7 linked regions of the Homo sapiens genome follow. The protein of the gene in region 2 interacts with the protein of the main gene of each other region in a biochemical or structural test. Each region holds a gene or a part of one and is shown on either strand. Other genes may lie near its edges. The genes, in order: PTPN3, CTNNA2, CASK, FRMPD2, DLG5, SYNJ2BP and TJP3.

The links.
Region 1: the proteins of CTNNA2 (region 2) and PTPN3 interact in a test that uses a peptide from one of them, tested with the Homo sapiens proteins (one large-scale study listed by IntAct).
Region 3: the proteins of CTNNA2 (region 2) and CASK interact in a test that uses a peptide from one of them, tested with the Homo sapiens proteins (one large-scale study listed by IntAct).
Region 4: the proteins of CTNNA2 (region 2) and FRMPD2 interact in a test that uses a peptide from one of them, tested with the Homo sapiens proteins (one large-scale study listed by IntAct).
Region 5: the proteins of CTNNA2 (region 2) and DLG5 interact in a test that uses a peptide from one of them, tested with the Homo sapiens proteins (one large-scale study listed by IntAct).
Region 6: the proteins of CTNNA2 (region 2) and SYNJ2BP interact in a test that uses a peptide from one of them, tested with the Homo sapiens proteins (one large-scale study listed by IntAct).
Region 7: the proteins of CTNNA2 (region 2) and TJP3 interact in a test that uses a peptide from one of them, tested with the Homo sapiens proteins (one large-scale study listed by IntAct).

The regions. Positions count from the first base shown.
Region 1 is NC_000009.12:109,375,959-109,380,149, forward strand, and holds part of PTPN3 (tyrosine-protein phosphatase non-receptor type 3), read right to left. Parts: intron 3,676-4,191; coding exon 3,598-3,675; 3' UTR 1-3,597.
Region 2 is NC_000002.12:79,907,779-79,911,969, reverse strand, and holds part of CTNNA2 (catenin alpha-2), read right to left. Parts: intron 2,377-4,191; coding exon 2,173-2,376; intron 1-2,172. UniProt on the Homo sapiens protein: May function as a linker between cadherin adhesion receptors and the cytoskeleton to regulate cell-cell adhesion and differentiation in the nervous system. Required for proper regulation of cortical neuronal migration and neurite growth.
Region 3 is NC_000023.11:41,913,379-41,917,569, forward strand, and holds part of CASK (peripheral plasma membrane protein CASK), read right to left. Parts: intron 1-4,191. UniProt on the Homo sapiens protein: Multidomain scaffolding Mg(2+)-independent protein kinase that catalyzes the phosphotransfer from ATP to proteins such as NRXN1, and plays a role in synaptic transmembrane protein anchoring and ion channel trafficking.
Region 4 is NC_000010.11:48,267,868-48,272,058, forward strand, and holds part of FRMPD2 (FERM and PDZ domain-containing protein 2), read right to left. Parts: intron 1-4,191.
Region 5 is NC_000010.11:77,794,064-77,798,254, forward strand, and holds part of DLG5 (disks large homolog 5), read right to left. Parts: intron 2,532-4,191; coding exon 2,388-2,531; intron 2,126-2,387; coding exon 1,998-2,125; intron 896-1,997; coding exon 786-895; intron 55-785; coding exon 1-54. UniProt on the Homo sapiens protein: Acts as a regulator of the Hippo signaling pathway.
Region 6 is NC_000014.9:70,385,572-70,389,762, forward strand, and holds part of SYNJ2BP (synaptojanin-2-binding protein), read right to left. Parts: intron 3,036-4,191; coding exon 2,899-3,035; intron 1-2,898. Other genes in the region: SYNJ2BP-COX16 protein, read right to left, coding at 2,899-3,035. UniProt on the Homo sapiens protein: Regulates endocytosis of activin type 2 receptor kinases through the Ral/RALBP1-dependent pathway and may be involved in suppression of activin-induced signal transduction.
Region 7 is NC_000019.10:3,731,835-3,736,025, reverse strand, and holds part of TJP3 (tight junction protein ZO-3), read right to left. Parts: intron 4,092-4,191; coding exon 3,988-4,091; intron 2,274-3,987; coding exon 2,114-2,273; intron 1,700-2,113; coding exon 1,591-1,699; intron 461-1,590; coding exon 387-460; intron 158-386; coding exon 91-157; intron 1-90. UniProt on the Homo sapiens protein: TJP1, TJP2, and TJP3 are closely related scaffolding proteins that link tight junction (TJ) transmembrane proteins such as claudins, junctional adhesion molecules, and occludin to the actin cytoskeleton.

The sequences.
Region 1 (4,191 bases), on a different chromosome or scaffold from region 2:
CCGAGACTGCTCTCAGCTGAGGACAACAGGCAAGAACCAGAAGGTGGCCATCCTTGTCTTTGCATTCAACAGCGCCAAAGTCTGAGGGACAAACTCTTGGTGACAAGTCTCAGAAATGTGACATGTCTCTGTAGCAGCCATAAAGCTTTGGTTTAGGATTAATTTTGATTCTCTGGAATATCAGCCTCCCAGAATGGCAAATCTTGACCTCATCTAGTCCAGCCCAACCTTCCCTTTTTACATATAAGAAAACTCAGGGTTGAGGGCAACATATCTTGCCTAAGTCCAGGTCTAGACCCAAGCCCTGCCTCTCACAATCTTTCCCCATTTCTGCTGCCTCTTTGTTGCCTCTGGAGGATGAAGAGGGCTTTTTCGCTTGCCCTCAAATGCTCATTTCTGAGGTACCCCCCCCAGAAAAAGGTCAGGTAGCAACACAGCAGCAATAGTATCCACACTAATCTAAAAGCATATTTAAATATGAATTACTGTGGTAGGAAACGAAAGACAACTGTGTGATCCAACCACTGCCCCCTAACCAAAGTTGCATTTTTTTCTTCTGGAAAGTCAAAACACCAAGTGCAGGTTCTAGAGGGTGACACCAGCAGGGATCTCTCATCTTGATTAAATTGGCACATCAACATGTTTAATTAGATCTTTCAGAAAGTGCCAGAACATAGGATGTAAATGTCTTCTCCATTCATATGCAGCCAAATTTCCCAGGCAAAATACTTATCCTGATTCTGATGTAGTTCTTCACTTAGGACTAAAAAAAGGCTTAAGTATAATTGCTTAAGTGTATAAGGTGGTGAAACAGGAATCTTGAGCTACGGATTTTAAGTGGTAATAGCTACAGGATTTACTTGAATTGTTTGCTCTTTTAGGTAATTCTCTTGTCTTGTTCTTCCCAGTATTTCCTGGATTTGTTCCTGGCAACCTCGCTGGGTCTGAACTGCTGGCCTGCCCAGTGGCAGAAGACTGCTTGCAACCTTTGGTAGGCTTTTTAGAAATTTATGTGACCGTAATGGCTGCATTTCTGCAACCATAATAAACAATTTGTTTTTGGAAAAAAGCAGTAAAACACCCATCTCCAAAGACATTTAGACTACTTTGCAAGCATTTTGCACACAGGGTGATGATGCATTTTTACCAAACAGTAATAACTTGCTAAATATCCTAATGGCATTTAAATTTTTGCCAGCGTTCCCTCCATCCCCCTTTCTTGGAGCTTGCTGAATTTTTGTGAGTCCAGATTATTTTGTGCTCTTGTTCTCTCTCTTCTAGAAGAGCATTTTCTATTTTCCTCTCATAAAAACCCAGTTAGGCTGGGCACAGTGGCTCACGCCTATAATCCCAACAGTTTTGGAGGCTGAGGTGGGAAGATCACTTGAGGCCAGGAGTTTGAGACCAGCCTAGGCAACACATCAAGATCCTGTCTCTACACACACACACACACACACACACACACACACACACACACACACACACACACACACACACACAAGCCAGGTGAGGTGGCATGTGCCTATAGTCCCGGCTACTCAGGAGGCTGAGGTGCGAGGATTGCTTGAGCCCAGGAATTTGAGGCTGCAGTGAACAATGATCATGCCACTGTACTCCAGCCTGGGCGACAGTGAGACCCTGTCTCTAAAAAGAGAGACAAAAATCCAGTGGATTCTATTTTTGACTGATGTGTTTTTGGGCTAATCACTGATAACTAAACTTTTCTAAGTAACTCACCCACAGCAGTGTCTGTTGCTGTTCTAGCCGATAAAAAGTCACATGAATAGCGTGATCTTATTCAATCCTCATGTTCCAACTAAAGTCCTAAGTATTGTTTCTATTTTACAGATAATGAAAGAGAGGTAGAGCTTCTAAGCAACCAGGCCCGCAAGTAGTTAGTGCTGAGTGGGCGTAGGAACTGAATCCCCTGCCCCTTAGCTGCAAACTTTCTGGTGGTTTCTTGTTTTCAATATGGGGTTATGGTACTGTGTGACATCTCCCTCCCACCTCTGCCATTTAGCAGTAAAATATCCATGTGGAAAAGAAACAAAGTATGCAAGTAAATATGCTAGCTCTAGAGATAAAGAATCTCCCATATAGGTCTTCATCCGTCTTGCTACCAGCAAACTATTCAATTGGCACCGAATTTGCTGAATATCAAAATGGCTTCATTTATGTGCATTATAATATGAAAACATCTTTTCTATAAATACCATTAAGAACCTGGCTTTACTTCCTCTTCTGAGTACATAAAAACCGCTGTTCAAAAATACCACATTAAATGTTTACACAATTTATTTTCCTTAAATAATAATTTGCTACAATCCTGTCACAAATTTAAAAAAATTTAACACGGTATTCACAAAGGCAGAATTCTTTAGGACAATCAAAATGATGGTGTTCTTAGAATAAATTAACATCAGATTGTGTTTATATTCAGATAGTCTGATCCTCTCCTTTGAAATGCAATGGAGACCATTGTGACTGGGGGTGAATGCACACATTTGTTCTTCCATACAGAGACTCATTCTTTATATATACTCAACGGTAATTTGAATCGTTAGGAATCCTGAGAAACACTCACCCCTGGGCACACACATGTACACAGCCCCACGGCCAACCCTCCAGAAGCTGGGTTTCCCATGGTTCAATTACTAGAAGCTCTTTTCTCAGAAGGCCAAACATTCGGAATATTTAGATGACACTGTCCCATCTCCCCTTGGGAAAATCATAAGGTTTCAAGTGGAGGAGCTTGAAGTAGCAGCAATACATGTAGGAGATTCAGTAGTCGGTGATTCCAGTCCTGGGTGCTGAGTGTGCAGTAGGAGGCAAGCAGAGGCAAGAGACACACCTGCTTCTACAACTAAGCCACAAGATGACCAGAACACACTGAGAGTACCAGTTCTCAGAGCCTCAGCTGAAAATTCACCTGAATGCACATTACTAATCCAGGTTAGGCACCAAGAGGGAACCTGAAGAGGGACACAATTCTCAGAAACATGAATATTGGAAGTCGCTGGGAGATGGGACAAAGGGAGGGAGGGCAGAGAGGTGTTGCTCAGCCTTCAGCCTGACCCCCAGTGCCCTGCCATCTAGTACATACGTCAGGGTTTCCTTAGCATCAGGGCGGGTGAATCTGAATTGTTCCAGCTCCACCTAGAAGCACAGAAAGCTCAGCCCTTACAGTCTGACACACAGAAACAAACAAAACATCCAAATGACCCAAGATAACCACACCATCTTGTTGCTGGGAGGACAACAGCTCTGTGGGTGTCCGGTCTCAATTGCTCCAGGATGCCGACAGGGGTGTGTGTGGTGATGTTAGGGAAGAAGGCATTAGGACAGGCCCCAAACTGAGATCCTTTTTGTATCTTTCCATAGAAATACAGGCCTAAATGATGCCATAATTGCATGCTTATCTACACCAGTTCCTATGTACACGATATCTTTTCTATAGAAGTTTAAAGTGCCTGGGTTCAGAGGTGCCCATTCCTTTCCCACAGCTACTGGTTCCTCTTGCTGCTTCCAGAGAGGTCTGTCCTCCTCTTTCAAGGAGGATGCCCTTGGGAAAGAGGAATGAACTTTTTCACAGTTGTCTTAACTAGGATCCAGCATTTGGACTAAACCTTCTTCATACACACGAAGAATCGCTTCACACACAAACTTGTACTGGCTCTGGAAAAGAAAAAAATGCTGTCAAGTCCTGTAGCTCCAGGAAATGCTGCCTACCACACCCTGTACCGGTGGGTCTTTTGCAGCATTTGTAAATATTCCCTGAGCGCCAACTCTGGGCCACAGGCCAGGTACACCTGTGAAGCCCTAGTTCCTATATGATGCGGGGAGGGGGCACTCCCAGAGAGGGGTGGGCAAAGTGTCATGGAGACATGACAGAGGGAGAAACTGGCGGTCTGGGGGAGGTGGGAAGGAGCAAAAGTCCCTGCGGGACAGCCCTTCTTGTAAGTGGAAGTGTGGAAGCCTCAGTAAGAGCCCATTTTGAGAAACGGGGTCAGGGAGCCTGCTCCTGGACTCAACACCTAGGCATGTGGAGGAGGAGGGGCTGCACAGGTGGGCTGGGACCTGGTTGTGGGCACCTTGTGTTGGGGTAAGGAGTCTGGATTGTGTTTTACAAAGCAGAGCCACTGAAAGATGCTCTGCAGGATACAGTTATTTATCTTAGCAAATACCTAAGAA
Region 2 (4,191 bases):
CATGGATGTGTATGTGTTTTTGTATTCATACATGCTATATCAAAATAAATACAAATTGACTGTGCAGCAGGAGAAATGAGTGCACTGGACAGGAATTATGAAGGTGATCTGGCTGCATCCAATTCTACCTTGAAATCACCAAACAAGTGTGAAGTCCAACTAAATGTTATACAGTTTACATAAATGTCAAGTAGGAGGTGTTTTATTTCAGGCTTTGATCATGATGGTTCAATGTGAATAGAACTTGTGCATTTTGAAATTTAAGCACTATACCCATTGATGTATTGTCTGTAACCATGTCAAAATAGAAACTAAGATTTCAATAAAGCACAAAACATTCCTGCATCACGAGGCTGCGAACAGAAAACAAAAAGTGCCTGGAGTCAATAAAATACAAAAATCCATCAGCTCTGCTGATCTGCATGAGATTACACTGAAAGAAAAACTTCTAGTTGGCAGGATTCTAGACACCAAACTGAAAATTACATGTCACGTGTTGATCAACTCTTATTTAGTCACGTTCTGTGATTTCTATTTAGAAGAACATACTTTTTTGTCTGATTTATTTATATTGAGATCTTAACCATCACTGTGATCTCTGTAGTTTCTACTTCCTTCTTTGGCAGTAACTATTCATTAATAGAACCACTAGCGTGCCTTAATGTAAAACCAAATTCCACATCCATGTAATTAGCCCTTTGCTATTTTGTTAACAACAACAACGAACAAACAAACAGCGTCTCAGATTTCATAAGCATTCTTCGTTGACACATCTGCTATTCAAAAGATTCACTCAGCTGGGAGACTGTGGGGTCAACATTTCTAGCTGCACCCTACGTAATACCATGGATCAAAATTACAGAAAGTGTTGGTCATCCAGGGTCCTATAGAGACGTCCTCATAAGCAGCTGGGTGCCACATGATGCATCCACATTTTATTCTTTGTGTGCTGAAAAAGGCCAAGTCTTCCAAAATCAAAGAATCTGAAGGTTCATGGAAAGGAAACAAATTTTGTTTTTTTTAGTTTGTTAGGTTTTCTCATTGACATCTTTTTGCTTTCTCAGTGAGTTCTCTGGAGGGTCAGCAGGAGGAGCACTGCTACTGTCAACACTCATTCCTTGCTTGCATGTCTGTTAGCTACATATTTTTACTCATGATGGGAGTGGTAAGATGCTGGAGGGAGAGACACTGAATGGCTGCTTTGTTTCAGCATTGCCTCGGGGTGTTCTAATAATACCTAACATGGACTTCAGTAGCTGTGAGCAGATTTTCAGTGTCTCTGTTACCCACCTGGTAGCTATACAGGGCATTCCTTCAAAATGTAATATCGAGACCTCACTTTATCTACATTTTTCCCCAATTTGTGCTAAATTATCTCAAACCCGAAAGTCCAGGAAAGGGGGAAGCACAGATCATCCACTGTTGCAAGCATCGCCTCTGCTGAATGAATGTAGCAAATCAATACAGCCATAATTTAGTGCCTTTCAAGGCAAAGAATATGAGTTTCATCACCTTCTTGCAGGTTACAGGTACACAGAAACTGTCACATTTTACAACTATAGGAGAGGATGGCTATTATGTGCCAAAATACAATTAGATACCAGTCATACATACCTATTTGAAAACTTAAGAGACTCACTCTTATAAGCAATTCCTGACTATGAATCAATAAAACACCTCCAAATTTTACTACATTTAGAACTTTTCCTTAAACAACCCTATCCACACGTTTTTTAAACCTAGTAGATTTATTAATGCCTCTTAGGGGTGAAGATTCGCATCTACAGCTATCCTTAGGTTTAAAAGTGCTCTTTGTAACAGAGGACTTACTATATCCTCAGCTGTTTCCATCAATCATCTACCTTTACCAATTGAAATCTTACCTACTTCAAAATGCAGCCACTAAAATGACCGAGAAGAAATCAGCCAAGTAAAAAGTGAAAGAGCTTATTCTCCATCCACCTGTTCCATATTAAAACAAACAAACAAAAAATGGATTCAGAAACAACACACACGACACGCGCTCTCCCAAAGCAGTTCTTTGGTTTCACCTGACTCTCTTTGGTAAACACCTGGTCTGTTCTCTTTTCCTGCTATCTATGCTTCCAAAAGAGCAACACGATTGCAGAACAGAATCCACCAAGACATGAGAATGGAGATCCCAAGACTTACATTATTCATGTACTCGCTGAGCAGGTCCTGGAGCGCCTGCCGCACGGCGTTGCACTCCGCCACGATCCTCTCGCGCCGGTCGTCTCGCGTGCAGGAGGAGTCGGCCATCAGCGCTGCGCCGCTGATGATGCTCTCCAGCCTCTCCTCCAGGGACGGCCGGAACCTGGCCTCGCTGAACGTCATGGGGTCCAGGATAATCTTATTCTGAAAGTATCACACACACACACACAAAAATCAGCAGAGAAGAGAGGTCTGCCTTGGCACCCTGTTTTGAAACCAGAAATATCTGAGGCAAGAACAGGAGTCCCCAAGGAGGAGAAACTGGTTACTCAAATTCTAAAGTTGCCTTGACAAAGTATTAACTTTTTCTAGATATTTTGTCCTAAATGTAATCTTCAGCTAAAAGAGCACATCTTATTTGAAGAATATGTTCTTGGCAAAGGCTATCTCAACGGAAGAGCTTTCAAATAAGATTAGGACACTTTTTTGGCATTTTTAAAATACGTAGCCTTTAAGGAAAGAACATTTCAGTGTAATGCTTTGGGGAATTATATAAAGATTTTAGAGCTAAAACATGATAAATAATCAACATCTTAATTATGCATTAGCTGTGGCTTGTATACACACACGTTAATCCTCCTCATGAGAAGCAGATATTCCCATGGCAGGATGCCTTTTGAAACTTGGGCACATAACACCCAACAGGCATATTCAGTACAGGTTAATTTATGCTAGTGTTCTAGAAAAGGATTCCTAATGTGTGTATGAGACTTGTCACAAATAACTGACAGTATCCTTATAAAGGTATTTACCTGTTTGGAAGGAGCCTATATAAGAGGAAAATAGTGATATTTCCTAAAAGGAAGGCGTCACATAGAACATGAGCTTAGCATTTCCCCAGCCAAGTTTTAGGAGCCTGGAAACATGTGGGCAGAGATGCCCCGAGGTAGATGGAAATATGCGTCCAAAATTCAGGAGCTATAACAGTCTTTATAGGGATCTGGTAAATGTCAGGGGTATTTGGACATAAACTAGTGAATTACATACTAGTAAAGTGAATAGAGCCAGAAGAGCAGGCCAGAGAAGACCCCTATACAGAAGGACCAGAATCAAAAAGGAAGACAGAAAGGGTAGTCAGAAAGATAGAAACAGAACTTGGAAAACTCCCAGCAAATGAGGAGGGTAGAGCGTGATGGTATGTGATCATTAACTGTGTGAAGTCTAGAAGCAAAGGTGACATTGACCAAAGGCTGGTTTCCTTTGGGGAGCCTTTTCTGCCTGAAGCAAAGAAGTTCATTCCACAATGATAAGGTAGAATGACCTGCTGCAGGAAATGGTGTGCTTCATTGGGGGTGCACTCTCAGAGGTCCAAGAACCAGAGTGGCAATGATGGGGCAAATGGTCTTCCAACTGTAGAATACTATGGTGCAATTGCCACTCTGTTACTGCTTCTTTTGACGTTCCTTATTCCTTATATATTCACCAAATTTAAAGAGTTGTAAGAAAAGAACAATTTACCATATTTACAAATACAATACGAAACATAAATGAGAATAGGTAGTTATTCTATTGCTAATCTGCACCTGCCGAAGACCTACTATATGCCTACTACTGTACTTAATGCTAAAAAGAAGGGGAGATAAAAGATGCTTTTATGGATTTTTTATGCTGATGTAGTATATACAATAACTGCTTAAGTTATTACAAAGTGAAGTCCAGCTGTATGCTCTGGGAAAGTTTGTTGTAACCCTCCAAAGCATCCTAGGGTGTTTGTTCAGGTTGTGTGCAGAATATCTGGGCTCCAATTCTCTGATTCCTGTTAAAATGCAAATCTCCAGAGCAGAGAGATAGAACCTTTGGGCACAAGAATGTTGAAGTCTTAAGGAATGAGTGTAGGTAGGTTGGGACTTAGAAAGGAACAGGTATACACCAAACACAGACCATGTCTGAAGTCCACTGGAATCTTGGATTTTTTAGAAAATCACTAATTGGTCAAAGCCTCTTTTCAATTTAGAAAGC
Region 3 (4,191 bases), on a different chromosome or scaffold from region 2:
ACAATGGCAATTAAAATAACAACCTTTAGACATTTCACATAGATCATGCTATTCAATCCTCACAACAACCTTACAAAGTATATACCATTAACCACATTTTACAGATAAAGAAACTGAGGGTCAGAGAGGCTAACTAACTTGCCCAGGACCTCATAGCTAGAAATGAATACATAAATGAACAATGAATAAAAGTTAGCACCACTAACAATTTTACACACATGGTAGAAAAGAATGTTCATTTCACCATATTATTTATGTAATAGAGCCTGTGTTTAGCACTGAGAATGTGCACATTTGGAAATTGTTGAAACTTACGTACATAACTGCCAAAAGTAATTTGAGTATCTCAGAGACATTCTAGAAATAAAAAATACTTATGCTGCACTTTACAATTCACTAATCCACACAAATGGTTTGTGAAGCAGCTATCATTCCTTTTATAAATAAGGAGAAAATAGCCACACTGTGCCCAAAGGTTACCAGATCAGAAGGGGGCTGCCTAACAAGCCACAGAGCAACCGCATTCCATACCTTTAGGGGAAATCACATACCAAGGGTAAGAAAGAAGGCCAAGAATTGATGATGTTTTCTAAAAACACAAATTAGAATCTATGAAATAGCAGTAGTATAATGGTAATCTGCACACCATGGAAGGACTAGAGAGAGAGACCTCTGTAACTGAATGAATATCATCATCCTTTAATTTAAGAAAACATTAAAATCTGCATGTAGTTGAATGGTAATACAGTGTACTTCTATCCTAGATTTAAATATACCAAAATACTCTAACTTAAGTGTTAAAAGCCTGAAATACAGACTGAACATAGTATATTTTGGATATTATTAAACTACATGAGAGACAGAACAATCCACATTCTTACCTGCAAATGATTCAAATACTCAAAACAATGATTACAAAGCAAAAAGGAAAGAAAGTATATTAAAAGAAATCACAAAGATTGGGAGAAAAAACAATGTACAACAGCCCAGTAATAAATAGAATACAAGAAGCTGAAGTGAAATAGCACGCACTTAGATACCAAAAAACTGGCTTATGTACAACGAAGCAATCGTTTCTTATTGTGAATGGATGTGGACAACCAAAAATAGCCAATGAACAAATTTAGTTAGGAGGTGATGGGAGAAGAAATGTGAAAGAGGAGGACAGTACTACATTCATCCAACGTGGACAAAAATCCTTGAGGCTAGAAAGAATTCAGTTTCCTATAGTAGAAAGATATAAGACAATAACAGTGGTTTGACACATACCAAGAACTTAAAGTAAATGTAAAGTATCTAAAACTTACTTTGTCACTTCATGAAAGGCTTCCATTTAATTGACAGTCATGCACAAGCTCGGGAATGAAAAGGACATAATCTTAGGAAAACCAAATGATTTTACCTAAAAGCCAGTCATCAGAAATCTGCAAAACACAATTAGAGTGAAAAAGAAATCTACTTTGTTTTTACCCTAAATATGTTGGTTCTGAGATAGATTTACAGAGAGATAGTATAAAATTACTAGTATCCACAGAAAAGAAGCCAGACCTAGCTTTTCAGACACATCATGAATTGACTATTAAACATAATATTCATTTTGATAAGTGCTTTAAATTGTTTCTCTGTTATAGCCACATGTGTTCTTAGTCCTCAGAGTATATTGGCATTTTACATTATTGATCCTCCCCCCTCTTTTAAACTTCTGTGCAGCCCATTATCCTGATTCTTCTAACTCTATGAGTTATACTCCAAACCACGAGCCCTAGAGCAGTCAACCCCCAAGAACTTGTTCACTCAGTTTTACTTCCACACAGATGACTCCCAAATCTTCACTGCCATTCCATACCTCTCACCCAAATTCCAGCTCAGCATTTCAAGCAATGTAAAATTACAATTGGCTTGCACTCAATCCAAAGCCAAAGTAACAATCCATATGACAGAATACTGGGCAGCAGCTAAAGAGGAGATAGAGACAGACAGATACATTGATGGATATGACAAGATCATCAAGTATATACTATTATTCATGAAAAATCAATATTTCAGCATAGTATACAAATATCTCACTTTTAAACAAAAAGCTTCCAGAAAGATGGAGAAGAAACTGAACAATGGTTACCTCTAGAGAATGGGGATATGGATGGTAGGAGAATTGAGACAGACTCACTACTTATCTTTGTATCACCTATATTTTAAATTGTATGGCTGGGCACAGTGGCTCACGCCTGTAATCCCAGCACTTTGGGAGACCAAGGCAGGTGGATCACCTGACGTCAGGAGTTCGAGACCAGCCTGGTGAAACCCCGTCTCTACTAAAAATAAAAAACTAGGCTGGACGCGGTGGCTCACGCCTGTAATCCCAGCACTTTGGGAGGCCAAGGCGGGTGGATCACGAGGTCAGGAGATCAAGACCATCCTGGCTTACATGGTGAAACCCCATCTCTACTAGAAATACAAAAAAAAAAAAAAAAATTAGCCGGGCGTCTGTAGTCCCAGCTACTCGGGAGGCTGAGGCAGGAGAATGGCGTGAACCTGGGAGGCGGAGCTTGCAGTAAGCCGAGATCGCGCCATTGCACTCCAGCCTGGGCGACAGAGTGAGACTCCGTCTCAAAACACACACACACACACACACACACACGCACACACAAATTAGCCAGGCGCGGTGGTGCATGCTTGTAATCCCAGCTTGTTGGGAGGCTGAGGCAAGAGAATCACTTGAACCCAGGAGGCGGAGGTTGTAGTGAGCCAAGATCGTGCCACTGCACTCCAGCCTGGGAGACAGAGCGAGACTCCATCTCAAAAAAAGAAAATAAAATTTACTACGTGCATCATTACTTTTATAATTTACTGTATAAAAACTAATTAATAAAGAAAAGTAACACAAAATTATTAAATCTCAATGTTGGAAATAAACATTAACTTCAAAACAAACTAGCTTCGGAAATGAAATTTTCCCAGGGTAGAAGTCAGAGACTCTATACTGACTTGGGCTCTACAACCAATACCATAGTGGCTCCAGGACAGAAAGGAAGGAGAGCAAGTTCTGTAGCATCTTAAATCCCACAGCATAAATCCAGAGCCATATTTGGTGCTTCTAGAATCTTCACTGTCAGTTGCAACTAAAAAATAAAACCAAAAAATGTGAGAACAGCACATCCCATCAGCTTGTTGGCTGGGGTCCGGTACCTGCTCTGCAATAGTTAACTCAGTCTCTTGATTATTTAAGGTGTACAGTGCTGGCAAACAGCTAGAAGCTCACAGACTCAGCGGCTGCAGCTCACTACACGGTTTTCAGAATCAGAGAGAACAATCTCCGTATTTTTATCACAGGATAAAGGAATAACTATCCTTTGGAAACCACTCCACCCCACTTCCAACAAACATCTACCTCTGAAACCTTATTACTTCTGGTTTGGCAAGTTAGGGGTAATTAATCAACTATCCTGTCTGTTGGGGCAAGGGAAATGGAAGAAAAAATTTGGAGAGTAAAAGAAGTAGAGAAAGTTCCAAAACAAATTATATTTTGGACAGATGGCCAAGAGTCTATATTTCCATTGCTAGATTTACCAGTTAGTTTGGTAACAAATGCTGATGTTTCATTAAAGAGAAAGACAAAAATAAAAAAGAAACAGATGAAAGAATGAATAGTATATGGAACCTCTACTGAAGAAATAAGAAATTTAACCAGAAAGTCAAACAACTAAAATTTGCAGTATAGAAACTCTGAAAATGAAGACGTGTCTTTAAGAAAATCCAACACAGTATTTTCACAACTTGAATTAGCAGCAGAATGCAGCATGAAATGAACAGACTTTAAAACCATGGAACCGCGTTGGAATCTGTGTGATCTTAGGCGAATTACTGATCACCCCCTCTGAATCTCAGTGTTCTCTGTAAAATGGGTATGATTAAATAATACATCCAAAATGCCTAACATTAGAGGGATAAATGTCAATCCCTTTATAAAGTAAGCTTTAAGTTATAGAAGTTTTTTAAACAACCTTATGTCAAAGTTCCTTTAAATGCAGTGCTCCTACCACATTTAAAATGTGAAAACGTTTAAGAAAATGTAATAATTCAAGAATAATCTCAAGAAGCAAGGTATATCTGCTCCTTCAATTTATTGAGTAGAACTACAGCTGGAGACAGAATTTTCAGTTTAAAGGAAATATCCAGGTACACAATTTAGGG
Region 4 (4,191 bases), on a different chromosome or scaffold from region 2:
TGCTAAAGTGAAAGAAGCCAGATGTAAAAGCCTACACATTGTGTAATTCCATTTATATGAAATATCCAGAATAAACAAATCCATAGAGGCAGAAAGTAGGTTTAGGTGCCATGCTTAATATGGAGTACTCACATGTAGGATGTCTACAAAGAAGTTTCAAAACTTAACAGCAGAAAGCAAACAATCCAATTAGAAAAATGAGCAAATGGCATGGAAAGACATTTCACTGAAGATACACACATCGCAGATAAGCACATGACAAGATGTTCAACATCACTGGCCATAAGGGGAAGGCAAATGAAGTCTATAATGAGATATCCCTCCCCACCTATATGACAGGAAAAAAAAATAAAGTGACAATACCAAATGCTTATGAGGATACAGAGAAACTGGATCTCTTCTAAGTTGATGGTGGGAATGTAAGTGGTACAGCCACTTCAGAAAAGAGTTTGTCAGTTTCTTTTTAAAAAAGAGAAAAACTAAACATACTCTTACTATACAACTGAGCAATTGTGCTTCTGTGCACTTATCCCAGAGGAAAAAAAATGAATATCCACACACAAAGCTGCATGTGAACGTGTGTGTTTTATTTGTAATAGCAGCTTTATTTGTGATAGCCAAAAACTGTTAAGTCAAAATGTCTTTCATTTGGTGAATGGTTAAACAAATTGTGGTATATTCATACCATGGAATACTACTCAGCAATAAAGAGCAAACTATTGATACGTGCAACAGCTTGATTAGATCTCAAGGGCATTAGGCTGAATGAGAAAAACCAGTCTCAAAAGGTCACAGCTTGTGAGACTGATCTCAGAGATAGTAGAAGCAGGGTGGTAGGGAGTAGAATGGGAGCTGGGGGAGATCTTTGTGGCGATAGAATAGTTTTGTATCTTGATTGTGGTAGTGGTTACATAAATCTACACAAGTATTACAATGGCATAGTACTTTACACACATATTGTACCAATGTCAAATGTCTGGGTTTGCCATTGTGCTGTAGTTAGGTAAGATATAATCACTGGGGGACACTGGAGGAAGAGTATAGGGACTTCTCTGTGCTCTTTGCAACTTCTTTGCAACTTTTTATCTGACCATATATGAAAATTAAATGTAAACAAAAATATGCAACAGATTAGGAGAAAATATATATAATGGCAAAAGGGTTACTATTTACTCATCAATTAGAAAAAAACAACTCTTTAATTTAAAAGTTAAGAAATAAACAGGTGAAAAAATACAACTACTCAATAAATATTTGAAAAGATTTGCTGTGTTTCTAGTAAATCAGGGAAAACAAAACAGCAATGAGAATTTATCAAGAGGGTCAAAAATTTAAATATTTGATGTTAGCAAGGTGGGGGCTGCAGACCAGGCCCTCTCATAACACCCATTAACATGGGAATTAAATTGGTATAGATTTTTCAGAGCCATCTATCAAAATTGAGAACATGTATTTGCCAAGTCCCAGCAATGCCAATTCTCTGCCTCCTAGGGAACATTTCTAAGCATATAGGAAATAGGATGCACAGAGGCGTGTTGCATGTGGATGTTGCTGGTGGGGCAGGTGGTACCTAGTACAAGGGTGGCCAGCGTCACTGAAATGCAGCCTTCAGAGGGATGCAGAAGCTGAACAGGCCTGAGAGTTCCCCCTTCACGGAGAGCATAGCCTTCTCTCCTCCTGCAGTGATGATTGAGGGATAAACCTCTGGCTGATGGGACTCAGGCAGGGCCAGGCCGTCCGTGGGTTCCCAGCCTAATGCAGGTTGAGAAGTGGCTTGCCCTGTCACAAACCCCACTGGGTGAATGCTTTGTTTAAAAATTTTCCTCTAGAAGTGAAGCAGCTTCATTCAGTCAAATTAATCCATCCAGAGCAGACCATTAAAAATACTGGTTAGTGAAGAGGGGGTCCTTAACTCACACTTGACAGACCCAGGAGACCTGCTGTAGCACAGATGGGAAATGGGAGACAGCCAAGGTGTGAGGGTGAAGGCTTGTCCAGAATCCCACTCCGAGTGGTTTCAGGGAGAGGACTCTGGTCTCAAGCTCTTCTCCTGGGCTTTATTTACCACATACCCCTCCTCAGGCCCTGAGTCAGGAAGTTGCTTCCCACAGTGATATCTACAAAGAGCTATACAGCCAGCTGGGATAAGGGATGAAGGTCAAACCGAAAGTGACTATTTCTGTGCAAAGAATCAGAGAGAAAAATCTTATGGGCCCAACAGCAGTAGGTAATTGAGAAAGTGAGACTAAGAAAAGTCATAAAAGAAACGGTGATTCCTTATTAAACAATATGGAAAAACTGTCCACTCCTGCCTATAATCCAAGGAGCTGCTAGTGGACGTGGTCTCGAGGCCCATTTTCATCCCTCAAGTGGGCTTCGATGATGAGCGCTCAGTGCCCATGAGGTGGCAATGACACTGTTCCTCTCAGAGACCTTACTTATGTGTGGCCAATTTGCGACAGCTGATTTGTAAAGCAGTTTGGCAATCTGTATCAAAAGCCAAGGGATGTCCATTCCTGCCATCAGGGTCTTCCTCTTCTGGGAATTGATGCCAAGAACATAATTGACAAAGATGTATATTCAAAGATATTTGCCATGGTATTATTTGTAACAATGAATAAAGGCAATGCCAAATGTCAGTGGTCTTTGGGTTTCTCTCTGCCCTGGCTCCCTCTTCAAATCACTCTACATGCTCCAAAGTTACCAACCATCAGTCCATCCCCTCCACAGCCATGTCTTAAGCTCAGACCCGTTTCTTGAGCTCCTGCTTGGTGATCCCAGGATGTCCTTTAGACAACCCCCTTAGATGTAGAGAGCTGAATTCACCTTCCCCCCACCTCCTCCTCTTTCAACCTCTCTTATTTGAATACAGCAAATGGCATTCCCACCACCTAACCCCTCAAGCCAAACATTCAGACGACATTTTTGTCTCCTTCCCATCCCTCAACTTCCCAGCCCGTTAATCACCATCTCCAAAATCTCTCTAAAATCCGCCTGTTTCTCTCCAACCCCACCACCACTGACCTGGTCTAAGCCACCAGCACCCTCCCCTGAATGACCACTGAAATGTAAATTCTACAAAATGGTTTCCTACAACCATACCTTGCCCCTGCCCTGATCCATTCTCTGTCTTGCAGAGTCCTCTTCCTAAAACACAAATCTGACCATGTCACACCTCGTGAAAACTTTCAGCCACTTTCTATTCTCCAAAGGATCAGCTCAGATCCTGAGCAAGATTTGCAGGACCTCAGGCCCACCGCTTTGGACTGATCTCTAGCAGCTTCCTCTTTCCCCCATGGCCTTTTTCCAGCCTTAGACGCACCACAACCCCCTTGCCTCCTGTCCTTCTGCAGGCTCTGTGGGGACACTCGCATCTGGAGCTCCTTCTTCCCCCACTGGCTGAATGACTCAGTAAATTAACAAGTGAATACTTCAGATGCTGCCTGCACTCTGGACTGGCATCATACAAAAATGATACTGATAGAAGAAACAAAAGAAATTCCTAGATGGCACTTTTTTAAAATGTCTAATACATTTACTCTCCAGCCAGACACTGTTTAACCCATCTTGAATCTATTGAAGAGTGAGTTCTGACAGCTCAGCCTTGATCTGCCTCCTGCCTGGCACCAGCCCTCCTGGAACTGGTTCCTGTGCACCATCCTACACATCTCCTTCCTGCCTCCCTTCACTACCTACTCTATTTCCAACAATGTTGGGCTATGATAGCTCAAGCAAATACAGGAATAAGGAGGCTTACAGCCAAGGCAAGAAAAAAAAAGGGAGGGCAGTTAACAGTAGAGCTGCCAGCGACCAGTAAAAGGAAGCCTGAGGAATAGGAATCAGCCTCGAAAGCAGACTTCTGCCAGGAAAGCAGCTAAAAACACTGATATCTCAGGGTGAATACAATTCAGGAGGGGAATGAGAATAGAAAAGCATAGTGGCTGGAAGAGCAGGCTCCGAGGTCAGAGCTGGATTGATCCCACCTCACCGTGGGCAAGTTACTTCCTCTCTTTACTCGTTTATACCATGAGTTATTGTGTCTGGCATATGGCAGTTTTTCAATAAATCCTAGCTATTCATATTATGAATCCTGAGTATATGGAGAGGGCAGGGAATAGGCTAGAGACAAGCCAGCAAAACTGGGGTTTCAGACCAGAAATGACTTCACTAATGGAGCTGCAGGTAGCATTG
Region 5 (4,191 bases), on a different chromosome or scaffold from region 2:
TTGGAATGCCTCTGAGTCACCTTGTCCCTCAGGTAGATGGGGTCTCTCTGCTCCCTGTGGGGACAGCCAGACACCAGGCTGAGCACTGAGCCTCCTCCAGGCCCTCTTTCCTTCCTCTGTCCAGGCTAACAGGGGCCCCATCAAGGCAGGGGTAGGCTGTGGAGGGAGGCCCCATGTGCTCCCCACATAAAGCACAGCAACAGCCTGTAGGCTGTCGGGGGAGCTCTGGGCAGATGGGGGAAGGAGGGCCCCCCAGCACACACACTTGGAACAGATGCACCAGCAGCCCCTAGCGCAGGTCCCAGAAGCTCAGCAGCACAGAAAGGCAAAATGGAGCAGGGCCTTGGTGAGCCCTTGGCCCAACCAGCACAGGAGCCGAAGCTCAGCGAAGGCAACGGCTCCTGAGTCATGAGCCAGCTCGGGGCTGAGTGGGACTGTGCCCAGGCCACTGGCTCCCCTGCTCCTAAGCAGCACGTAGCGAGGAAAGGGGGCTGGGGCAGGAGAGGGGAGCTGTGCAGACCAAGCTGGCCATGCCCAAAAAACAGTGGCAGCACCCAAATGGCGGAGGGGCGCGAGGAAGGGGCTGCGCTTGGCTGACACCACCTCTGAGTAGGGGACAGGGCCGACAGGGAAGGGTCATTTTCTACACGTACTGCCTATTTCAAGACCCATAGGCCCATCTCTCATTCCTCAACCCCCCACCCCAACACACCCTGCTCCCTACTTGGGCTCCCAGCCCCACCTGTGACAAGGCCCCAGCGGAGCCCAGGGGGCCAGTTACCTACTTGATGTGCTTGGCGCTCTTGTAGTGGATGAAGATGACAATGGGGTAGATGTGCATGTGGTGGAGCCGCTCAATAGCGTGCGGAGCAATGTCCAGGAGGCAGTGTCGGTTCTGGGGTGGGGGGTGCAGAGTGAGCCCTGGCGGGCAGTGAGGGGCAGCCAGCCCCCTGTCCTGCCACCAGCAGGACCCACCTCACCTCACAGGGCTCTACCCACAAACAAGGCAGTAAAGCCACACAGTACACCGTGGGGAAACCATACCCACGAAACTCCCAACAAACCCCACTTGCTGTGAGGAAGGCCAAGGCTGGGAGCCAGGGCTTAGGGGGCTAGGGGTGCTGGCCAGCCCAACTCCAAACTTCCTTTCCCGCCTTTGCCCAGATACAGGGACCTTCTGAAAGCCCTGCCCCACCCTGGCCTCTGAAGCCTTATTTTTGCCAGACTGAGCGAATGAAGAGCCAGAGTCTGGTGAGCCTTTGTGTGGCTGAGACTGAAATATGTCTGTCATGTCTGTCGTCCCAGGCATCCAGGTGGAGTGCAGGCCCGTGCACTCCCGACCCCCAGATGCTCCACTGGGGCATTCCCCCAAGTAGAGTTTGCCCACTTTCAGCAGTGAGAAGCCAACACCTTCATCTAACAGAGAAGGGAAGCAAAGCCCAGCGAGCGAGCTGAGCAGCCTGGAGAAATGGAGCCCAAGGAGCGGCTGTGTCCTTGGACTCCGAGTGTTTGCCCCACCAGCACTCCCCACAGACGTCCCCGCCCTCGTGCTGCCTAGGATGTTCGAAGGCACCGAGAGTCATAGCCCTTTTAGGGGCAGGGACCCTGAGGGAAGGCACGTTCCTGTCCCCAGAAGGTGCATGTGAAATTGTTCGGCACATGCATTTGGGGACCCCGTTCCGGAATGCCCTGCGAGAGGCCTTTCCGCAGAGCTCAATACTCTCATCAGAGATGAGACCCCCCGCACCTGCCAGAGAGGAAGATGGGGCGGCACATACACAGGGGAACTCCTCCATCCCCACCAAGGGATGTGCTTGCAGAAACACACAGCAGCCATGAGGGCAAGCCCAGGCACAGGTGAACTCAGACTAACACAACACGGTGGGCTCACTGAAGGTCTGAGCCGCTGGGGCAGAGGATCACGGACCAGGGGCCTAGACCTGTGCACAGGAGGTCTAATACTGGATGCCTAATCCTCAGACTGAAGCCCTGGGTACCTTTTCTGTGATCTCCTTTATTGACGCCACAGTGGTCACATCGAAATGGCCGCTTCTCCGCTTATAGTCGACAAACAGGCAATCTTTGACACCCCGCTCAATGGCCTGCTGGGAGGCCTTCATCACCTCTGCAATGCACAGACACAGGAATCAGGGAGCCCCAGGCCCTGCTGAGCCCCAGCAGAGGGAGCAGGGGAAGAACACTGCTCAGCAGCTGTCAGTAACCCAGTCCTGCCATGCATGAATCTGACCCATGTCAGCAGGCTTCTGGAACACTGTGAAATCTGCCCCCCGGTACTGCCACCCACTGTGCACAGCTGGGCAGGCAGGTGGACAGGGACATAGAGACAAAGAGCCCAGTAGGCACAGAGGGTGCCCCGTGCCCCTTACCAAGGGGACATCTGCAGAACTTGCCAGGAGCCTCATTCACCAGCATCTCCTTCACCACGTCCAGCAAAGGCCCCAGAATCAGGACAGGCCTCAGAGCGGTGCAGTCCACCTTCTGGACCCGCTGATAGGCCAGGCTCACCGAATCTGAGGGAGAGAGAGCAGCAGCGTCACGGACCCAGCTTGGAGTGGAGGACCTGAGTGGGGCTGGGGAACCCCGCTCCCTGACCTCGCCCACTCTGGTTTGCCTGGGACTCCCCCAGCTTCAGCACTGAAAATCTCGTGTCCCAGGCACAACCGGGCATCGTCACCCCTGGAGTCCAGCATGAGCACCCCCCATGCCCTCTGTGAACACCAGAGGCAGCTGGTCTCAACCACTCATCCCAGAGCTTCCTTCTGCTCTGATTTTTCCTCGTGGGTCGACGCCTGCTTCCCCTGCCCCATCTCCATTCTCCTCTGCTCTCTGGCAAGGCAGCCTCTGGGGTTTGGCAGGTAAAGCTCCCACTCCCCAGGAAGGTGTGGTCAGTGTAACCCAGACCTGCCCAGTGACAGGTGAGGCCTCCCCAATCTGCACGGCTAGAACAGGTGAGTGCTGTGAGCCAGCTCTGGCCATGCAGTTGAGGATAACCCTTAAGAAATGGCAGAGGCACAAGATGGAAGGGACCTGGGTCCTGGATGATCCTCAGAACGCAATGCCTCTCCCACATCAACCACAGCTCAGACTTGTACATGACAGAGAAATAAACTGCCCATTATGCTTAAGCCACTGTTATTTGGTTTCAGTTAAAGCAGTCAAACCAATATCCTAGTTGATACATGCAGTAAACCTCCCCTTGCACCAAATGAATAAAGTCCTTGCAGGGAGACACAGTCTAAAACCCAGCAAGATCTTCCTGGCGTCTCCCTGGTATAAGTCACTGTGCTGGAATCTCAGAAACATAATAAAGAATAGAACACAGAGTTCCTGCCATTAAAAAGCACACACTTTAACTAGAGTCACAACAGAGCAACACATGAACAGCAAGAGAGCACGCAAGAGCTGCCTGGCAATTCCAGGAGCGGCGGGCTTCAGTAGACACTGTGGCTGGATGACAGGGTGAAAAGACCACTTGGGCAGGCCCAGGAGGGAAGTGGGATGAGAGTCTCCAGAAAGAGCAGGGCAAGAGGATGAGTATGGAGATGATGGGGAGGGCAGAGCACAAGATGACTGCAGGCTTGGGAGGAAGGGTCCATGAGAGGCTTGGCCTGGAGGGATCTGTACGCATATGCAGAACAAGGAGTGACTGCAGAGCAGGCACAGGGACCAGGAGGCAGAAGGCTCAGGAGAACACAAGCACAGTGCCAGCTGCAGCAGCAGGCTCCATGAAGAGCAACCTGTGGGCAAACTCAGGGAGTAAGTAAAGTCTCTCCTCTCCTCTTGCCCTGTCCCTGTGTGTGTGTTTTTTAGAAGTGATCACTGCTGGGCATGGTGGCTCACGTCTGTAATCCCAGCACTTTGGGAGGCTGAGGCAGGTGGATCGCTTGAGGTCAAGAGTTTGAGACCAGCCTGGCCAATAAGGCAAGACCCCTTCTCTACTAAAAATACAAAAATTAGCCGGGTGTGCTGGCGCACACCTGTAATCCCAGCTACTCAGGAAGCTGAAGCACAACAATCACTTGAACCCAGGAGGCGGAGGTTGCAGTGAGCCGAGACTGCACCACTGTACTCCAGCCTGGGCAACAGAGCAAGACTAGATCTCAATAAAAATAAATAAAATAATAAAACTGATCATTATCCACATACATCCACACAGTCTTTTACACAGCA
Region 6 (4,191 bases), on a different chromosome or scaffold from region 2:
GGTTTTGCCATGTTGGCCAGGCAGGTCTTGAACTCCTGCCCTGAAGTGATCCACCCTCATCAGCCTCCCAAAGTGCTGGGATTACAGGCATGAGCCACTGTACCTGGGCTAATTTTAGTTTTTATATAAAACCATACATGCAATCTACTATTAATTCACCATGTAACTTTGTCTTTAGGATAACTAATCCTAGCTCCTCATTTACCTTTTAGGAGGCAGTATAACAGTATAACATAGTGGTTTAAAAAAAGGCTACAAATTCAGACAAACCAGTTTGAGTCCCTTGCTGCTTACTAATTGTGTGACCTTGGGCAAATGGCTTGGGCACAATAATCATGCCCACCTCATAGGATTACTATAATATTAAACAAAATAAATTTCAAGTTCTTAGCATGTTACCTGACATTTAGTGCTCAAATACTTCTCACCATTCTCATTTTGCAATAATCTACGTTTAACCAAAGCTTTTAAAATAATACAGCTCTCTTCTTTCTCTTCTTAACTCCTATACTATTCTTCATCCACAGAGCCCAGGTTCCAGTGTTCTGAGGATAATGTAATTTATGTGTCAAAATATTAAGCTGCATAGATTCTAACTAAATGCTACACCTTTATTTTAACAACCCACTCTCAGCATTCCTTACAGTACCACTGCCAAGTTGATTCATATTGGATGAATGTCTTTCCTTGGGAGCTAAAGGAAATAATCTGCTTCTAAACTTTTCACTATCCTTTTGAGAAGACAGGTATATTATCACTGTCTCCATCTCACTGATTAATAAACAGGGTCTAGGAGAAGCTTAATGGACTGAAGAGAGGCAGAATAGTCAATGAGAAGGACTGAAATACTGCAGTGCTTGATACTATATTTATATTATGGATCAGCGAGGACACATGCTTAGACATTCTTGAGCTAATTTAGGTGGCTCTAATAGCTACTTGTTCTGATTTTCTTTCTTTTTGGGGGACTAAGTGGAGTCACAGTCTTCCTGAAGAGGCATTCAGAACCATACTGCTGAGCCTGATCACTCAAATACTCAGATGCCAAATGAAGAAAAGGTGGATGTTCTCTCTCTCTTTTCCTTTGTATCTCTGCCTTCAGGTTCTGCTACCAAATGGGCTTCATGGCAGAGAGGTGTTCAATAAGCTGACAACTAAGAAGAGCAAGAGATTTCACACATATGACCTTTAATCACTAATCACCTGAACTGCATGAGAAGTAATGTGAAAGGGAAAATTCAAATGAAACTATATAGCAAAAAATTTTTAAGGGATGAAGCTAACTCATTATAGAGGTAGGTTCAAAATCATGTATCTGAGACCAATACTTAATTCTGCCAATCAAGACTTCTCCTGTCTGTACTTCATTCATTTATTTCAACGTTTTCCCAACGTGGCCATCTTGCCCTATTCAGTTCTAAAAGAAAACAGGGAATAGTTTTCTCCTCTTCGGACCATGGGCTTATGGCCCATCTGGAGAGGATAGGGCTCCGAAGCCCTATCCTATTTCAATTTCCTTTTATTTAAGTCTAGCCCTTTGAAGCCAGCTCTCCCAAGAATATTCTAGATAATATCTCACCCCCTCAGCATTTTTCCATTCTTTATACCAATCATCTGCACTGTTTCCATACAAGTAATAAGCTGGCCATTTTTCACTAGTCCTGAAGATTAATAAAAAAAGAAATTCTACAGAATAATTATCTCCAACTATACTCCCTTATCCCCCAGCAAACTGATAGTATCATAGGATTACTGTGGCCCATGGTAAGGTAGAGAAATGAACAATAGGGCCAGAGTTATATTTTGCATTTTAATAGTTTTGACTGTATGCTTGTTCTAATTTATTTTAAGACCTGAGGTCTGTGGGCCCATATTTATCAGTCAACCTTTTTAGGTTTGCCTGAATTTCTTAACTTGTTCATTTCTTAAACATTATTAAGCACTGTGCTATGATTCAAAAGGTTAAAAAAAGATCTTAGGCCGGGCCCGGTGGCTCACGCCTGTAATCCCAGCACTTTGGGAGGCTGAGGTGGGCGAATCATGAGGTCAGGAGTTCGAGACCAGCCTAGCCAACATGGTGAAACCCTGTCTATACTAAAAATATAAAAAATTAGCTGGGCGTAGTGGCAGGGGCCTGTAGTCCCAACTACTCAGGAGGCTGAGGCAGGAGAATCGCTTGAACCCGGGAGGCAGAGGTTGCGGTGAGCCAAGATTACGACCCTGCACTCCAGCCTGGGTGACAGAGCAAGAATCTATCTCAAAAAAAAAAAAAAAAGGATCTTTTCACTGCCCTTGAGGAAATATTCTGGAAAATAGTAAGATTAATAATTACCATGTAGTATGTCTTCGTAGAGACATTAGCAGGATGAAATGGGAACACAGCGGACAGGTACCCAAATCAACTGCATTCCAAATTTTCATGTTAATAATGGGTGAAAAAGGGCTCTGAGTCTGAAAAGGACACTTAACTCCAACCTTCCTTCTTTCTGTTTTGTGATGTTAAATCCAATTATAAGGGCTGACATTCCCCCAAAGGAAGATACACATTAGTGTTTTAATCAACAAAAGGAGGTGATAAAGTAATGGATGAAAGACAAAATTTGTGGATTTTAAATCTCTTTTCCCCATATGAGTCCCTCGCTGCTTCCTGCCTTGTGCTTTTTGAACAAGTAACTTCACATTCTGGGCTTCACATTCTCATCTATCAGGTGAGCATAATGTTGCCCTCCATGCTCAATGATAGGGTTGGAAAGAATGACTGATCAAAGTTGTTCCCATTCAACTCTACAACCTGTATATTTCCAGATCCAAATCTTTTCAAGGAAAAGGGATAGGGAGGGGTAGGACCTAGGGCTTAGGGAGCAAAGGACAGTGAAGGAGGCCGAAGCCCATTCTCACCGAAAGGATCTTATCACCCTCCTGGAGCCGCCCATCCAGGGCCGCAGCCCCATTTTCTTTGATGCGGCTGACGTAGATGCCACTGTCGTTGGAGACATACTGCTGATCTGTCCCACCGACGATGTTGAAGCCCAGCCCTGAGAAAATCATGGAGGAGTAAAAAGATGGGGGTGAAGAAGAAAGAAAGAGATTAGAGAAGATGAAGAGAAAGGGAGGGAAAGCCTACTGGGGAGGAAAGGCTGATGGAGAGGAGATGCTGGCGAGTCAGCCTGTGATGGAGCTGGTGAATGGTCATGAACAAGGTCAGCCATATCAAGAGTATTGAGTTGCTCACTCAAATGAGGCACGACTGAAAATATAAACACAGTGATCCACCTGTTTTGTTCAATATATAAAGAAAGATCTATATAGAACTTAAAGAATAATGGTGATTACTCTAAGTTCGTTCTTCTTTTTCTTTTTTTTTTTTTTTCAGAGTCTTGCTAGTGGGCATAGTGGTGGGCGCCTGTAATCCCAGCTACTCAGGAGTTCATAGCTCAGTTGCCCAGGCTGGTTATGAGCTCCTGGCCTCAAGCAATCACTATTGCCTTGGCCTCCCAAAGTTCTAGGATTACAGGTGTGAGCCACCATGCCCAGCCTAGATGTAAGTTCTTCTACTCACATTTAGTTTTGATCCTGTTGATGGTATTCAAAGGACCCAATTCCTGACATTCCTGATATTACTACAGCAGGGTTAGCTGTGTTCATCAAAAGAAGCTATGCATTTTTACCAATTATCAAATGAACTGTTCCTAATTTAGTGTGAGAGATTTCTAACCATACCTTCCCTTCCACACTTTCCTTCTCCCAAGCTTCTGGAGAATTTATGTATGATAGTGCTTTAGAAAAATCTCTTGAGAGTTTCTTTTTTTTTTTTTTTTTTTCCATTTTGGTGGTGGAGGCAGTGGTGTAGGTATTGGCAGAGAAACCTCAGAACCAGAAAGGTAACTGCTATTTCATGGTAGGACTAAATCACCAAATTTACTCTCCCTTCCTTCGCTACTTCAAGTACAACCATATATAGGTTGAGTATCCCTTATCCAAAATGCTTAGGACCAAATGTGTTTTGAATTTTGAATTTGGGGGATTTTGGAATATTTGAATTAAACTTACCAGTTGAATATCCCTAATCCAAAAATCTGAAATCTGCAATGCTTCAATGAGCATTTCCTTTGAACGTCATGTTGGCCCTTAAAAAATTTTGGAGTTGGAAGCATTTCAAATTTCAGATTTTTGGATTTGGGCTACTCAATC
Region 7 (4,191 bases), on a different chromosome or scaffold from region 2:
TGGATACAAGCAGGCAGGATTGCGCTGATGAGGGAGGCAGCCTGGGATGTAGGAGTTTTGAGCGGGTTTGCTTTCTTCTGGGGTACATACCCACGATCCTCCATGCTCTGACTGCTGGGCACTCTGTAGATGTCATAGCTGCTTTCCCTGGGCAACTCTGAAAGGGAAAAGCCAGTCTCTTTCCCAAGCACACTGGCTCAGTCCAGCCTCCAAACCTTTGCTTTATGTCCTCATCCTGGAAGGACTGTCACCCACCTCGAGTCCTTCTCAGGAAACCATGTCTCACCACTTAGGCTCAGGCCAACCTCCCCCAGCTCTGCCTGGCACAGCCTTGCTGTCAGGGATCAGAAATGTCAGGGACAGGGGTGCTCAGAGTCACCACCCACCTGACCGTTGCTCATCTGGTTCCGAGATGGTTCTGGAATCTACTGAACTTTCCCGCCGAAGCCGGGGACTCTCCCTGGTGGGGAACAGATTGGGAGTGAGGCAGGGATGGATTTCAAGGGGCCATTTTAAAAAGAATTTTAGGCCGGGCACGGTGGTTCATGCCTGTAATCCTAGCATTTTGGGAGGTCGAGGTGGGCAGATCACCTGAGGTCAGGATTTCAAGACCAGCCTGGCCAACGAGGTTAAACCCCGTCTCTCCAAAAATACAAAAATTAGCCGGGCATGATGGTGGGCGCCTGTAATCCCAGCTACTCAGGAGGCTAAGGCAGGAGAATTGCTTGAACCCGGGAGGCAGAGGTTGCAGTGAGCCAAGATCATGCCACTGCACTCCAGCCTGGGCGACAGAGTGAGACCTTGTCTCCAAAAAAATAAATAAATAAATAAACAAAATAAAAATAATTTTAATTTATCTGGGCTGGGCGTGGTGGCTCACGCCTGTAATACCAGCACTTTGGGAGGCTGAGGCAGGCCAAATGCTTGAGCCCAGGAGTTCAAGACCAGCCTGGGCAACATAGCTGGGCAATACAGACCCCATCTCTACCAAAAATATGAAAATTAGCCAGTCTCACATGACTCAGTCTCAAAACAAATAAATAAATAGAGGAAAAAGAAATTTTTTTTTTTAAGACAGAGTTTTGCTCTGGTTGCCTAGGCTGCAGTGTAATGACACGATCTCGGCTCACTGCAACCTCCATTTCCTGGGTTCAAGTGATTCTCCTGCCTCAGCCTCCCAAGTAGCTGAGCTTACAGGCACCCGGCACCACGCCGGGCTAATTTTGGTATCTTAGTAGAGACAGGGTTTCACCACGTTGGCCAGGCTGTTCTCGAACTCCTAACCTCAGATGATCCACCCTCCTCGGCCTCCCAAAGTGCTGAGATTACAGGCGTGAGCCACCGCACCTGGCCTAAGGCAGAGTTTGATACTAAGAAGTGGGGTGCTGCTGTAACCAACACCTACAAATGCGGACACGGCTTTGGAACTGGGTAATGGGTAGAGGCTGGAGGTATTTTGAGGCACATGCTAGAAATACAGGACTGCGTCCTCAAGGTTACCCCCAGTTGGAAAGCTACGCCCGCGTTCCCCTCTCCCTCCCACCTCCCTCTCCCTCCCTATCACCATTCTGGCCGATGGGTGATACTTACACGGGAGAGTCGGTCTGGCTGGCCTCGGGGCTCCGCTGAGCATGCCGGGGTGGTGGTGGGATGTGGGATGGTGGTGCCTGCGATAGCTCCGAGGCGAGGTCCGAGATGTCTGCAGGGGGAGAGGACATCTCATCAGCCATGGTCACGCCTTCTGGACTGGACCCATTTTACAGAGGGGTATATCAACACCCCTCTAAACAAAGGGCCCTAGACCAAAGTCAGAAGCTCAGTTAGAAGATTCGGCTCTGGAGCTGGGCACGGTGGCTCACGCCTATAATCCCAGCTACTCAGGAGGCCAAGGCACGAGAATCGCTCGAACCCAGGAGGCAGAGAATCGCTTGAACCCAGTGAGCCGAGATCGCCCCCCTGAACTCTTGACTTGCTGTGTGGCCTTCAGCAAGTTCCTGTCACTCTCTGAGCCTCTAGGGACCAGGCTCATTGATTCCTTGGCCCTGCCTGGGGCTTCCCACCTTCCCTGCCATCCATTCAACCCCCTCCCAGGTCCTAACCTCTAGGTCCTCACCCTCCAATGGCGAGCTGTCGCTGTCACTGACAGCAGGCGGAATGTTCACCAGGAACTGCCCACGATCTCTCAGCACCAGCAGGCTTAGCTTCCCTTCTGACTTCTCAATCAGTCGCCGGGTGTCGTTCAGTGACAGGTTCTGGCTAGACACCCCGTTGATCTGAAAGGGACCAGGAATGAAAGAGCGGAAGTGAGTTAATGAGAGATGGGAGACAGTAGAAACAGCCTGGTGTGGGGGAACTTGAAACAGACAATTCCCCCAGAGGTTGCTAAAAACAGCCACTCCCTAAGGAAAGTGTTGAATTGGATTCCTGCTGTGAGTGGAGACCACACCAAGAACTGAGCACCGAATTCTAGAAACAGAAAATGTTCTAAGAGGGGTGGGAGACACTGGGGAAAATGAGAAACAGGTTGACTCTCCTTTCTTACCAAAAGTGGAAATGTCTCAGGGGATACTAGGAACAGATGTGAGGGTGACATTATAAACAACTCTAACTGGAGAAGAGGGAGTATCAGATACTTAAAAGATACTAGAAACACACAATCTTCTGGGAGATAACTAGAAACAGATATCTAGAGTGGGGCGCGGTGGCTCACGCCTGTAATGCCAGCACTTTGGGAGGCAGAGGCAGACAGATCAGTTGAGGTCAGGAGTTCAAGACCAGCCTGGCCATCATGGTGAAACCCTGTCTCTACTAAAAATACAAAAATTAGCAGGGCGTGGTGGTGGGCGCCTGTGGTCCCAGCTACTCAGGAGACTGAGACAGGAGAATCACTTGAACCCGGGAGGTGGAGGTTGCAGTGAGCCAAGATCCCGCCACTGCACTCCAGCCTGGGTGACAGAGCGACACTCCATATCAAAAAGAAAGAAAAGAAAAGAAAAAAGAGAAGAGAAAAGAAAAGAGAAAAGAAAACAGTCATCTAGAGGTAGATTAGAAACACACAATTCCTAGAAAGAACTTAATGTCGGCCGGGTGTGGTGGCTCATGCCTGTAATCCCAGCACTTTGGGAGGCCGAGGCGGATGGATCACCTGAGGTCGGGAGTTCGAGACCAGCCTGACCAAGATGGAGAAACCCCGTCTCTACTAAAAATACAAAAAATTAGCAAGGTGTGGTGGTGCACGCCTGTAATCCCAGCACGTTGGGAGGCCGAGCGGGGGGGATCACCTGAGGTCAGGAGTTCGAGACCAGCCTGGCCAACATGGAGAAACCCGTCTTTTCTAAAAATACAAACATTAGCTGGGTGTGGTGGCGGGCACCTGTAATCCCAGCTACTCGGGAGGCTAAGGCAGGAGAATCACCTGAACCTGGGAGGCGGAGGTTGCAGTGAGCCGAGATTGCGCCACTGCACTCCAGCCTGGGTGACAGAGCGAGACTCTGTCTGAAAAAAAAAAAAAGAAACAGATAACTTTTTGAAGACACTGGAAATAATCAGCTGAAAGCAATTTGGAAATCAAACACTAGGAGTCACTAGAAACAGACTTTCAGGGGAAGAATCCAGAAAGATACCATCCTTTAGGGCAGGGCAGCTCCCCTAAACCTGGTGACTGGGTCATTAGCATCCAGTCACCTAGGGTAGGTCCAGGAGTCAGCTGCCCACATGAGTCTCTGATGCACATCAAAGCTAGAGGGTATTAGAAACAGACAACCCCATGGGGATACTAGAAACCGACATTTGGCTGTGGATTAGTAGTAGCTGGGGAAAAAGGGGGTTTTATGCCTGGCCATCTGCAACCTTTGAGATACAAGCAACAACACTGAAGGTAAATGCTTTGGGGCCCAGTTCTGCTGTCCTTGCTGTATGACTCCGTGGGACTGCCCGCCCCAACCCTGCCTTGTCTCCCTGCTCTCAGGACAAGAAGCCCGGCCTCACCTGTAGAATGAGATCTCCTTCCTGCAGCCCACGGTGCCGGGCAGCCAGGCCCGAATCTGTAATGTGCTTGATGAAGATCTGACTGCCCAGCTTGACGCCAAACTCTGTAAGGGGGGAGGAGGGAAACTGAGGCAGGACTCTGGAGACGGGTGCCTGGGAGCATTCTCCTGCTGTAAGCAGTCCAGGTGCGGGCCCTCCCATCCT